Homo sapiens: one gene and its partners. The protein of the gene in region 1 purifies or fractionates together with the protein of each later gene. This does not show direct contact. Each region holds a gene or a part of one and is shown in the gene's direction. Other genes may lie near its edges.

Region 1 (2,724 bases):
TGCATTCTGTCATCTCTGTTCCCACTCCTGCTTAGGCATGTAGTAGTGTAGCGTGGTGGGAAGAACCTGGGGTTCAGCTGGGACTTTGAGACAAACAGTGCCATCTCTTTCCTTGGAGATTGTGAGCTTGGCTGAGCTGGTGTTTCTGGGTTTATAAACTGGAGGCCACAGCAGTGCCTTTCATGGCATTGTTATAAGGCATAAATAAGGCAACACACGGGAAACAGCCTACCAACACAGGTTTGATGGACACAAATTGTGTGCATTGTTAGCTGTTTTCAAGTTTTTTCAGGGGCATGTTATTTCTGCTTGAATGGCTAAATCTCGTGATTCTGATGGGTGTGGCCCAAGGCTGCACTTTGAGCACCACTGGGTGAGCCAGGATTAGTGTCTAAGGAATTCCGTTTCCACCCTTTGCAGCTCACACCCCAGTGACCTCTTCTGGGAATGCCTTGCTGGGAATGCAGCTGAGCCTGTGTGGGTGTGGAGAGAAGGTGCAGATGGCCTCCGGTTTTCTCTTTGCAGGCTGAGAAAGTGTTCATGGTGGCTCGAGGGCTTGTCCGAGAGGCTCGGGAGGACTTGGAAGTTCACCAGGCCAAGCTGAAGGAGGTGAGGGACCGCTTGGACCGTGTCTCCAGGGAGGACAGTCAGTACTTGGAACTGGCTACTCTCGAGCACAGGATGCTGCAGGTAGGCACCTCAGGAGGCAGCCCTTTCGCACCTGGACAGTGACCCTAGCCTGGCAGATCATGGAGGGGCCGGGTGGGAACCCTGACTGGTCTGTAGTCAGAGGCCTGGTACAGAGGTGAGCCAGAAGCTCCTATGGATGGACAGAACCCCAAGCTTCCAGAGTCTATCCATATACTTTCTTCTGGAGTACTGGGGCCAACTCTTCAGGGCAGCGTAGCCTGGGACTCAGAATGCTGAGGAAGGAGAACTATGGAGGGGCTGGCCTAGGGAGTGCTGGACACTTCCCTTTGTGTAGACATAAGTGCACCTCTGGTCAAACCCAGAACTGCTCAGGTGGGACGATCATGCAACTCACTTTGATCACTCCCAATTCCTTTGCCCTTCTGACCCAGCCAGGTTGGTGCTACCTTCATTCATTCAGCATGGGTCTATGGAACATGTACTCTGCCAGGCACAAGGTAGTGAGCCATCTGCTGGTGGCTATAGCTGCAGGGCCACCTTGTGCCCATGTAATCCAATAACATGGCTTTGCTTCTGCAGGAGGAGAAGAGGCTTCGCACAGCCTATCTGCGTGCAGAAGACTCTGAGCGAGAGAAGTTCTCCCTCTTCTCTGCAGCTGTGCGGGAAAGTCATGAGAAGGAGCGCACAAGGGCTGAGAGGACCAAGAACTGGTCCCTCATTGGCTCAGTCCTGGGGGCCCTGATTGGTGTGGCTGGCTCCACCTATGTGAACCGTGTGCGACTACAGGAGCTGAAGGCTTTACTCCTGGAGGCGCAGAAGGGGCCTGTGAGTCTCCAAGAGGCCATTCGAGAACAGGCGTCTAGCTACTCCCGCCAGCAGAGGGACCTCCACAATCTCATGGTGGACCTGAGGGGCCTGGTACATGCTGCTGGGCCAGGGCAGGACTCTGGGTCACAGGCAGGTAGTCCCCCGACCAGAGACAGAGATGTAGATGTCCTTTCAGCTGCCTTGAAAGAGCAGCTTAGTCATTCCAGGCAAGTCCATTCATGTCTAGAAGGCTTACGAGAGCAGCTTGATGGCCTAGAAAAGACTTGTAGCCAAATGGCTGGGGTGGTTCAGCTTGTAAAGTCTGCAGCACACCCAGGCCTGGTGGAACCAGCAGACGGGGCTATGCCCAGCTTCTTGCTGGAGCAGGGGAGCATGATCTTGGCACTGTCAGACACGGAGCAGAGACTAGAAGCCCAAGTCAACAGGAACACCATCTATAGCACCCTGGTCACCTGTGTGACATTTGTGGCCACACTGCCTGTGCTCTACATGCTATTCAAAGCCAGCTAACCCCTGGCCCCTCCTCCAGAGGGTCTGAGGCAATAGCTGTGAATGTGGATTTAAGTAGAGAATCGTAGCAATGAAGCGAGCCTTTGGGGGCATGTACAACCTCAATCTGAAGGAGCAGTATCTGTGTGGCTCACCAGCAGGCATGCTTCGCTTTGTAGACAAGGTTCATTTACATTAATTATCAAAACTTTGTGCTAATGTCCAATTAAAATATCCTGAGTTTTATTATTTAAAACAATCAGACTGAGTTTTTTTCATTAAGAATCAAGATCCAAGACTTGAAGGTTGGGCCTGGAGTTGGGGTAGTCACCCCCTTTAGTTCCTCTCTCATCTCCTCTCTGTCCTCTTTTCTGAACTGTTATGGATGCACTCCTGAGGCCTAGATTTTCATTTTGGATTTCCTCCAGTTACCTGACTGTCCGGTGTCAGATGGCCTGGGAGTTCCAGTGAGTGGAACCTAGCCTGCTGCCTACTCATTTCGTGACCATGGTTGCTTCCCATCTCCTGGATCACTTTCTCTACCATGTGGGGGAGAACTTCCTGGTTCTAGTACTGGAGGAGTGATCAGAGGAGAGCAGGGAAGGGAGATTGGGAGAATGGTTGATAAATGTTGCTGGGGACATAAGTATAGGGATTGGTGGCCAGTCTGGATCCCTGGTACAGAGATTGCTTTGGGCAGCAGTGGTGTGCCACGGGGGCTGGGTGCACACCCCCACACAGCCCGGGGATATCTTC
Region 2 (2,861 bases), on another chromosome or scaffold:
CAATTGACCTCTCTGAAACTCTGTTTCTTCTGTTTAAAAAAGGGATGGTAATACTTATACATCATCAGGTTTTTGTGAGATTAAACAAGCTGCTCTATTTTCTTTATTTATTTTGAGACAGGGTCTCGCTTTGTCACCCAGGCTAGATTGCAGCTGCGTGATCTCGGCTCACTACAACCTTTGCCTCTCGGGTTCAAGCGGTTCTCGGGCCTCAGCCTCCCGAGTAGCTGGGACCACAGGTGTGCACCCCAATGCCTGGCTATTTTTTTATATTTTTAGTGGAGGCAGGGTCTTGCCATATTGCCCAGCCTGGTCTTGAACTTCAGAGCTCAAGCAATCCACCTGCCTCAGCCTCCCAAAGTGCTGGGATTACAGGCACAAGCCACTGCACCAGGCCAAGTTGCTCTGTTTTAAATCACGAAGCTTCATGAAATGTGAAGTATAAAGTAGACATTTTCGTTATTCATTTGAGCTGTTTTCACAAAGAGAAATATAATAATCTAATGTTTACCAAGTATTAGATACTATTGTAAGCACTCCATCTGAATGCATTTCATGCTCATGCTTATGAAGATGCTTAATGCTGAATAGTTAATGAAGATGAAGAAACTGAGGCACAAAGGGGATAAGCAATTTGTTCAAGGTCACATACCTAATAATGGCAGAACCAGGCTTCAAATCCAGGCAATCTAATTCCTGAGCCTATATAACCTAGATATGTTTTAGCAACAAATCTGTTTTTCTTCTTTAATTTCAATGTCATCCATATCTCAGTTCTTCTGATGCTGGCTCTGTCTCAGAATTAGCAAGGCTGAATGTCTTATCATTTTCTTTTTGTCTCAGTAACCTCACCCCTAAAGAGGAGGTCCTGTACAACAATACAAAGGAGAAAGGCAGAAAAGGGCCAGGAGAGAATGTGGAGGTGGGAGAGAACCCTGCATGGTGGAGACATTCCTTGACTGTTCTGTAGGCAGTAACCCAGGCCAGTGTCATCCAGGATGTTTCTGAAATTCTGCTTTTACAAGAGAGAGCTGTGTCACATATTTGGTGCTCAGTGACTAGTAGGCTATGTGGCCTTCACACACTATGAAGCTTTGAATGAAGCTGAGCCTTTATAAATGTTTAGAGTCAAAGGAATTAAAAGCCTAATGTAACCTAAAAGATCATCCCCAATCCCCTTACATTATGGACTTCTCCTCTCCCTCCCCATTGACGTCTTTCAAAAAAAAAGAAACAGAAACAAAACAAATGAAGTTGCCTGCCTAAGACCTGATTCTTAAGCCCTGAGCCTAGAATTCAGGCTTTCTATTCCCAGTGCTATGTTCTTCCACTACTTCATGATTACCATTTGACATCTTCCTTTATAGGGCCACACTGTGAACAACCATTTCTTGGCATTTCAGTAACTAAATCCACTTAGATGAGCTCCCCAGACCACCTTGCATTATACTTTATTTTGCTCTATAGAGAATATGGTTGTTTTTTGGCTTAGAGATTAAGAATTTTGGGTGAAAACCAGAGAATTCTGATGCTCTTCTTCCCCTAATGAAATAACCTAGAGCTGTGCTGATTTAGGAAATTTAAAAGGCTGTTTGGCTGCCAGGGTTCACATGCAAAGCTTTATTTTCTGTACATTATTTTGTAATTAAATGCCTGTGCCCATTTTCAAAATAAATGAACATGGATAACATTTCTTTTGCTCTCTCTCCTTTTCTGTCTCCTTCCCTGTCAATCCCTCCCTTACTTCCCTTCCATTCCAAATCAGGATATTGGCCCTCCTACAATGTTCCTTTCCATGAAAAAATCTACAACTGGAGTGGCTATCCACTGTTAGTTCAGAAGCTGGGCTTGGACTACTCTTATGATTTAGCTCCACGAGCCAAAATTTTCCGGCGTGACCAAGGGAAAGTGACTGATACGGCATCCATGAAATATATCATGCGATACAACAGTACGTAGCATATTTCTCAAGAATCATTCTTCAAAACTCCTTTTCTTCCCTATGGATACAGAATCCATGTAAGTTTATCATCTCTGTACTAGAAGGAATTATAAGAAGTTATTTAAGTATTTAACTAATATTGTACATTTTATACTCAATAAATAGAGCTTTGGCCTCCTTTATAAAATGAAAGAGAAGAGTCTATACATTTTTTAATTGAAAAAAAAAAAATCATCTGTAAAACACAGAAGAAATAACTCATAGAGGGTCCTTTAAAATTTTTCTCCAAACACAAGTTTCCTTCCAAGGATAACAGCAGCTAATAAAACAAAACATTGTTCATAAATACCTCATTTTTTTTGTATGAACAGCATCAAAGTCAAATTTGTATTTATTTTGTTGGAAACAGCTGATGGACGTTTATCTGGTTCTCTTTCCCATCCATTTTTCACTGTGTAAGGTTCTTGAGGGCAGGCTGGGCCTGGGGCCAAGGACTTACTCCTTCCTCACAAGCCAAGGGAGATGTCTCTATCTGGAAGCAGACTGGGCTGAGGAGGCCTGTGGGAGTACACTCTCTGATTATCTAGGCTTTAACAGGCCTCAAAACCTTACTGTGGAGAAGTGTGTCTCCAAATAGCCAATAATCACTCTCTTCCCCATTTCTGTTTCCTAGATTATAAGAAGGATCCTTACAGTAGAGGTGACCCCTGTAATACCATCTGCTGCCGTGAGGACCTGAACTCACCTAACCCAAGTCCTGGAGGTTGTTATGACACAAAGGTAACATGCTATTGGCTTTTGAATTTAATTCCCACCAGCACACAGGCCTCTCCAAAGGCAAAGTTGCACAGGTTTTTATGGCAGGAAGCGATGTCGCTAACCATAAACTCAACCCAGGAATCAGCTTTTTCAGAGATTC
Region 3 (3,500 bases), on another chromosome or scaffold:
GAAGACATCTTGTCCTCGGCCTGCTACACTGTGAGGAACCTGATGGCCTCGCAGCCACAACTGGCCAAGCAGTACTTCTCCAGCAGCATGCTCAACAACATCATCAACCTGTGCCGAAGCAGGTGGGCGGGGGGTTGCTCCCACGGGCTGCACCCCAATCAGAGCCCCTCCTCACCCTGCACAGCAGGAAGCAGTCCCGCAGCTCTCCATGGAGTAGGGGAAGCACCAAGGGCAGGGGGAGCCAGGGACGGGGGAGGCTTGAATGGAGGAGAAGTTCCAGAAGCCGAGAGTGCGTGGAGAGAAGGGTCCAGCATCCAGGCCCCAGGGCTGCATGGAGGGAAGAGGCAACACACTTCCTGGCTGGGGGACTCGGGGGCACAAGGTCCTCAGAGGGCCAGCAGGAGGCATGGGGCAGCAGGTCCAACTGAATAGGGACTTTATCCTGCTCTGTGGGGCTCTCTCTTCCCCGGACAAGGCTGGGGACTGGAGTGGAAGAGCACTGCCACCTCATGGCCCCTGAGGAGAGTCCTGGGGTGCTCTAGGTGGGCAGGGGCATGGGGTTGTGCCCACTGGGTAGGGTGACCAGGCTCACCACACCCCAATGGGGCTCCTCTCTTTTGCACACCTGAGGCCTCCTCTGAGGCCTCCCCTGTGTCCAGGCCCTGGCAGTGGGGGTGGGAGGGAAGAGGGTGCTCCTTCTCACACCTCCTGGAATCTCATCTCACAAATGCACTTCTCACCTGCCCAGTGCCTCACCCAAGGCCGCAGAAGCTGCCCGGCTTCTCCTGTCTGACATGTGGTCCAGCAAGGAACTGCAGGGTGTCCTCAGACAGGTAAGAGCCCAGGACATCATCCTCTTCTGAGGTTCTTCCTGCTCATGAGCAGAGGGCCTGGCATATGCTGGGCTCTGGGCTGGGCACTAGAGAAACGCCCCTGCCCTTCGGGACAGTCTGAGAGACAAAGACAGCGTCTACGTGAAAATGAATGTGATGAACGTTCTGATCAAGTCTCTGGGCTCTGAGATCTGCGAGGGATGCTGAGAACATGGAGGGCAGAGGAAATCAAGGAAATGTGTGAGAGGCCTGGGGTGGGATCCTTTAGGAGCAAACTGAAAAACAGAGTGGACAAAAAGCACACAAGTCTTTTGAGGGCATGGGGTTCACTCCAGCTAGAAAAGTAGGTGTGGGCTAGGTTACAAAACCCTTCTAATGTCAAACTGAAGAGCTTGGACTTGTACCTTTGGCACTGGGGAACCATTCAAAGTTTTGAATAGAGGGTTTCATGATCAAAGCAGCACCAAAGCTCACCCTGTGAGCAAGGCAGAGTGGGCTGAGAAGCCTGGAGGCTGCTGTCCTTGTCCTGTGGTGACCTTGGCCTCCTCTCTGTCCTCCACCCCTCCCCAGCTAGCCAGGTACAGAGTCCTCTAGGGTATAAGGTCTTGTTGTATGACATCTTCACATGGCCTCTTCTTTCCCATTCCTCAGTGATAAGCATGGACATAAAGGACAGGAGGTGGAAGAAATGGAGCAGTGGGGCTGATTAGGCTGGAGCTTTTAGCTTGGAGACTATGGTTATATTCATAAAGACACATCAGATGAGGAGAGCCTGAGAAGGCTTTTAGGTGGGAGTAAGAGGGGTCCCAATTTGGAGAGGTTGAGTTTGGAAGACTTGGATGGGAGTCCAGGCTGGAGGTGGTGTGGGCCCTGGCAGAGGGGCCAGAGCTACCATACAGAGTGGAGCTTTGTTCAGGCAGGCGAAGCCATGAGAACAGGCAAGACCACCATGGGTTGCATGTGTATGGAAAAGTCTTGAAGGACAGGGCAGAAATATGAAGACCATCTGCTGGGGACAAGAAGGAGGAAAGGCCAGGGAAAAGAGGAACTGTGCAGGGTGCCAGAAGGGGCTGAAGACCTGGTAAGAAGAGAAAGCTCTAAGGAAGGCAGGGCAGCAGTTCCCAGGGCTACCTAGAGGACCAGGGGATGGACACTGGAAAAGGCCCTGGATCCGGTGCTTCGGAAGTCTCTGGAGCCGTCCAGGAGCACTGCTGGCCAAGCAAGGGGAGCCCCATGGGGCCTGCTGCAGTGGGCAAGGCAGTGGATGGGGATGGATGGGGAGTTGCTGAGAGGAGATGCTGCTCCCTGCAATTTAGCCTGCAGAAAAAGGAGCAAAACAGTGGGTAAAAAGAGATCTGTTTAAAGACAGAGGAGACTCAAGCATCTCTGTCATGGGAGGAGAGGGAGTAGGCAAAGAAGGGAGAAAGACAGGGATGGAGGACAGGGAAGCCTGGGGATTGGTTGAGCAGCGTGGGGCAGAAGGAAGCCCAGCTCTTCCTCCAGCATGGCAGGGGACAATAGGGAGACTCATGAACGCACGGTGTCCAAAGATGATTGGGGAAATCTGAAGGTCACAGCAAAGGGTGGCCCTTGTTCTCCATGTGACAATCCAGAGCTCCTTTCCAACAGCACTGCATTGAAGATGGGCTTGGCAAATGGCAACTGCCAGATAGACAAAGGGAGACGAGGAGGCAGGTAAGGAGGACTGGTGTGAGCTTCCTCCCGCTGTGTAATGGTGGTCCAAAGCATTCAGCTTACCCCAAAACACAGAGTCCACCCCCGGCCTAAGACACACAGAGAATCCACTGACATCGCTCTCGGTGGGAATTCCCTTCTACACATGCCTTTGGGAACCAGCGTCCCCATTCAGTCTCCACTCCTCCTTCCAGCTATGCTTGACAACCATCCTGGGCATGATCTAGTTGGTGCGTCTGTTCCCAAAGGGCCTTCACATCCATCATGCATTGAGTTGTCACAAGCACAGGTGAGACAGGCCACATGGCTTGTGTCCATTTTGCTGAATAGGGAATCAGGGTCCAAGGAGTTTGTCTTGATTCAGTGAGTCAGGGCATGAGCCATGCTCGACAGGAATGAGCATGCCAATCTGCAGAAGAAAAATGGCATCATGTAATACATGCCCAAAGACAGGAGGGGCAGGGCTTCGAACCGGCTGCTGTTTCGGATCCCCTATGCCATCTCCCCTCCTGTTCCCACAGGTCGGTGATGGCTGGCTTGGCTCTCAGAGCTCAGGGCTGGCAGCAGGACCCTCTTTTCAAGGGCACCTTGGCCTATTGCTGCATTCAAATCATGCTGTCCACATTCACTTGGAAGCATGTATTGGGCACCTGCTGTATGCTGGGAGAAATAACAGGAATAAGACTCACTCTCCATCCAGCAGGCACTCAGGGGCTAGTGGGGCTGGAGGTGAAGAACAGACAAGTAAACAGAACCTTCTAGCACAGCGGCTTCTTACCAGTGCGAGCCCCCTGCTCCTGTGTTTGAGAAACAATGGGCATGTCCTCTCTGCCCAAGAGCTCTTGTCAGAATTGTTTAAAAAAAGAAAAGATAGAGGTGGTCAGAGGGAAGAACAATTGACAGCTTCTCTAATCTGATTTTGATTGTTGCTCTGTTTAAAAAATAATACTAGCCTAAATCCTCACGCCTTGA
Region 4 (3,500 bases), on another chromosome or scaffold:
ACACTTATAACCTTTTTCAAACCTTTGTTTTATTTTTTTTTACCAGGTGGATTTAGTTTTGGAGAAGGAGGTGGCTGGCCTCTGGATCAAGATCCCATGCACAGACTACATTGGCAGCTGTACCTTTGAACACTTCTGTGATGTGCTTGACATGTTAATTCCTACTGGGGAGCCCTGCCCAGAGCCCCTGCGTACCTATGGGCTTCCTTGCCACTGTCCCTTCAAAGAAGTAAGTACTTAGGGAGGAGAGAGCGTTACCCCTGTGGCTAAAGAGATGGGGTTTGGAGAGAAGGGTCTTTGCATTCTCCTTCTGCAGATCTGCATGTCTCTGGATTTGTAAGCCAGTGTGACCTATCAGGAATCACTTATCTTCCGGGAGCCTCAGTTATCCATCTACGAAATGGGAGACTTGAACTTAGATGTGATCTTCAGGGCCCTTTATCCATAATAATCCATGCTCTACAGTGCTATGGCCGTCTCTCATCTTGTGCGGCTGTTTTGAGAATGGGAAGAGGGGTGGTAGTTCATGGCTGCAATCCTAGCAGTGGCTCTAGGAGAAAGACCCCATCAGTAGGCTCCCACTGACTGGCGGTCCACTGGCTTTCCCGCAGGGAACCTACTCACTGCCCAAGAGCGAATTCGTTGTGCCTGACCTGGAGCTGCCCAGTTGGCTCACCACCGGGAACTACCGCATAGAGAGCGTCCTGAGCAGCAGTGGGAAGCGTCTGGGCTGCATCAAGATCGCTGCCTCTCTAAAGGGCATATAACATGGCATCTGCCACAGCAGAATGGAGCGGTGTGAGGAAGGTCCCTTTTCCTCTGTTTTGTGTTTGCCAAGGCCAAACTCCCACTCTCTGCCCCCCTTTAATCCCCTTTCTACAGTGAGTCCACTACCCTCACTGAAAATCATTTTGTACCACTTACATTTTAGGCTGGGGCAAGCAGCCCTGACCTAAGGGAGAATGAGTTGGACAGTTCTTGATAGCCCAGGGCATCTGCTGGGCTGACCACGTTACTCATCCCCGTTAACATTCTCTCTAAAGAGCCTCGTTCATTTCCAAAGCAGTTAAGGAATGGGAACCAGAGTGTTTTAGGACCTGAAGAATCTTTATGACTCTCTCTCTTTCACTCTTTTTTTTTTTTGTCACTAAGTTAAAAGCGAAGTGAGAGTATTAACGTTTTTGTTCTCCTCCGGCCCCCTGTTACAATGAAGGGGCAAAAGTATTTGCTCTTAGTCTATTCCTCCCTTAACTTCTGTGACTAATTTTTATTTCCTTTCTAGATTTGCCCAATTAATACTAGGGTGCAGTGTATCCTGGAGAGGTAGGGTGTGTGGGGGAGGAATCCCTTGGGGGAGATATTAGGAGTGCTCTGTTGTTTACAAACTCAGGTACCCGCAGGGCCTAGCAAGAGACTTAAATGACTGATAAGAACCGTGAGAAACATGTTGCTTCCAGGCTTGATTTCGATTTTTCGCTTTTTTTTTTTTTGAGACAGAATCTCACTTTGTCACCAGGCTGGAGTGCAGTGGTGCAATCTCACCTCACTGCAACCTCCGCCTCCTGGGTTCAAGCAATTCTCCTGCCTCAGCCTCCCAAGTAGCTTGGACTACAGGCCCTGCCACCACGCCCGGCTAATTTGTGTATTTTTAGTAGAGATGGGGTTTCACCATGTTGGCCAGGATGGTCTCGATCTCTTGACCTCGTGATCTGTCCACCTTGGCCTTGCAAAGCGCTGGATTACAGGCATGAGCCACTACACCCAGCCGATTTTTCCTTTTTGATTAAAGATGCTATTACAATGTAAATATTTCTTACACAGAAAGTCACAGCACATGTGCCCATTGATACAAGGCTGCTGAGGCCTGGTCTCCAGTTGGAAATATAATTAAGGGTGGCAAGGACTGGAGTCAGTTGGAGAGTGCATAGCCAGTCTGTGAAGACAACTGCCAGATACTGGCAATACTCCAGCCTGGTGACAGAGTGAGACTCTGTCTCAAAAAAAAAGTTTCAATGTTTACTCCTAGAGAAGCCAAAAATCCAGATTTGTATATGAAATCTTACCATTTTAAAAGATTGGCAGCTAATTATTTTTTTAAAAAGCTGTGCAGTGTGATGTGTCCCAAACGGACTGGCTCATGGGTGGCCACGTCACAACCTCTGATCTCAGACCGTGCATGCCTTGTCCTCTTAAGACAACTCCTGTGGCACCGTTTCTCCCTCCACAGGGCCAAAGCCATAGTGTCCGGTCCCAAGGACAAGGCTCTTCCAGTGCTAGGAGAGGTATGAGCAGCCTCTCACCTGTGAGCTGTGGGGATCACAAGGCTGCCTGCCTCAGTCTTGGAGTCCTGTTGGGTGAATGAGGCAGATGGGAAAGAGCCTCACCAGCAGCTGCTTTTGGAGCAGGGGTCCAAGGAAGAGAGGGTGGCCTCGACATCAAACTGCCTGGATTTTTCTACCACCCTGTTACATCATAACAACTTCTGAAACACACACCAGCCCTGAGTTCTGGGCTCATTTGAAGCCTGGAATAGCAATAAATCTTTTTAACTTGCGGACAGTTTCCCCTTGCCTTGGCTGCATATTTCACTGATCACATCTCAGGATTTCAAAAGCATTTTTGGGGTGGGGCTCTTTTGGTTGGAAGGGTTTGTTGGAACGGTACAGGTGAGCCGAGGTGATTCCAGGGACGGACCCTTCTGCAGGAGCTTGAGCTTGCTTGTTGTCTCTGCTTCATCGCCATCCAGCTCCCTTGTTTGCTATTTTGCTTTCCATCACATCATGACTGCGGAGAGCAAAAATCACCTAGTGACCATTGAACAGGTCCCAGAGACAAAATCTTTTTATCTGAGGAATTTAAAAGGGAGCAAAGACCACCTGGTGACTATCAGGCCATGCAGAGGCAAAACGCCTTATTTGGGGAAAATTAAAAGTAATTAGACTTTCCTATTATCTAAAGCAGGCATCTGGTTCCAGATTTCTTTTCCCCGAAAAAAACCTTAGAAGTAACTAAAATTTCTGTACATCTCCGGAATGCCATGCTGAAACTCACTGCAACCCCACGGTCCCGCTTTAAGGTCCATAAATATCCCTAAGGAAAAATCCACCGTGGTACATTCAGTCCTCTCACCGAGGTGCCCCATGGCAGTCTTCTGCAGCATTCTTCTAATACCTTTCCTTTTTCAAACCTATACTGTTGTTGGTGAATTCTTTTTACCAACCCACGAGTTGACCACTTCCCAATGCCGGGGATCTGACACCTCACCTGGCAATGACCTCCACAGCCGTTTCCCTCTGTTGGATCTTCCAGCCTTATTCTCAACAGTTCATTTTTAGTTCACATTCTTGACCGAATCTCAGTAGCTCAGTTAATCTTTTTATGTCTGCTCTGCTCTTGGGTCATATGTTCCGTGAGGTTTCTTAGGGGTGGGGGATGAGGAGTTAAAGGTGGCATCTTCAATCGCAGGTCAAAGCAGACTTTAATAAATGGTGCTGAGCCAA

What was found. Proteins that work in one complex are often made in the same cells at the same time.
Region 2: the proteins of CCDC51 (region 1) and PLBD1 purify together in Homo sapiens (affinity purification with mass spectrometry; 3 studies listed by BioGRID and IntAct, with this or other methods). This does not show direct contact.
Region 3: the proteins of CCDC51 (region 1) and PKP1 purify together in Homo sapiens (affinity purification with mass spectrometry; 3 studies listed by BioGRID and IntAct, with this or other methods). This does not show direct contact.
Region 4: the proteins of CCDC51 (region 1) and GM2A purify together in Homo sapiens (affinity purification with mass spectrometry; 3 studies listed by BioGRID and IntAct, with this or other methods). This does not show direct contact.

What each region holds. Positions count from the first base shown.
Region 1 is NC_000003.12:48,431,673-48,434,396, reverse strand, and holds the end of CCDC51 (mitochondrial potassium channel), read left to right. Parts: intron 1-420; exon of another isoform or gene 421-525; coding exon 526-690; intron 691-1,230; coding exon 1,231-1,989; 3' UTR 1,990-2,224; downstream 2,225-2,724.
Region 2 is NC_000012.12:14,506,023-14,508,883, reverse strand, and holds part of PLBD1 (phospholipase B-like 1 precursor), read left to right. Parts: intron 1-1,765; coding exon 1,766-1,951; intron 1,952-2,615; coding exon 2,616-2,722; intron 2,723-2,861. UniProt on the Homo sapiens protein: In view of the small size of the putative binding pocket, it has been proposed that it may act as an amidase or a peptidase.
Region 3 is NC_000001.11:201,325,006-201,328,505, forward strand, and holds part of PKP1 (plakophilin-1), read left to right. Parts: coding exon 1-122; intron 123-748; coding exon 749-833; intron 834-3,500. UniProt on the Homo sapiens protein: A component of desmosome cell-cell junctions which are required for positive regulation of cellular adhesion.
Region 4 is NC_000005.10:151,266,685-151,270,184, forward strand, and holds part of GM2A (ganglioside GM2 activator isoform 1 precursor), read left to right. Parts: intron 1-46; coding exon 47-229; intron 230-611; coding exon 612-767; 3' UTR 768-807; coding exon of another isoform or gene 808-956; 3' UTR 957-3,500.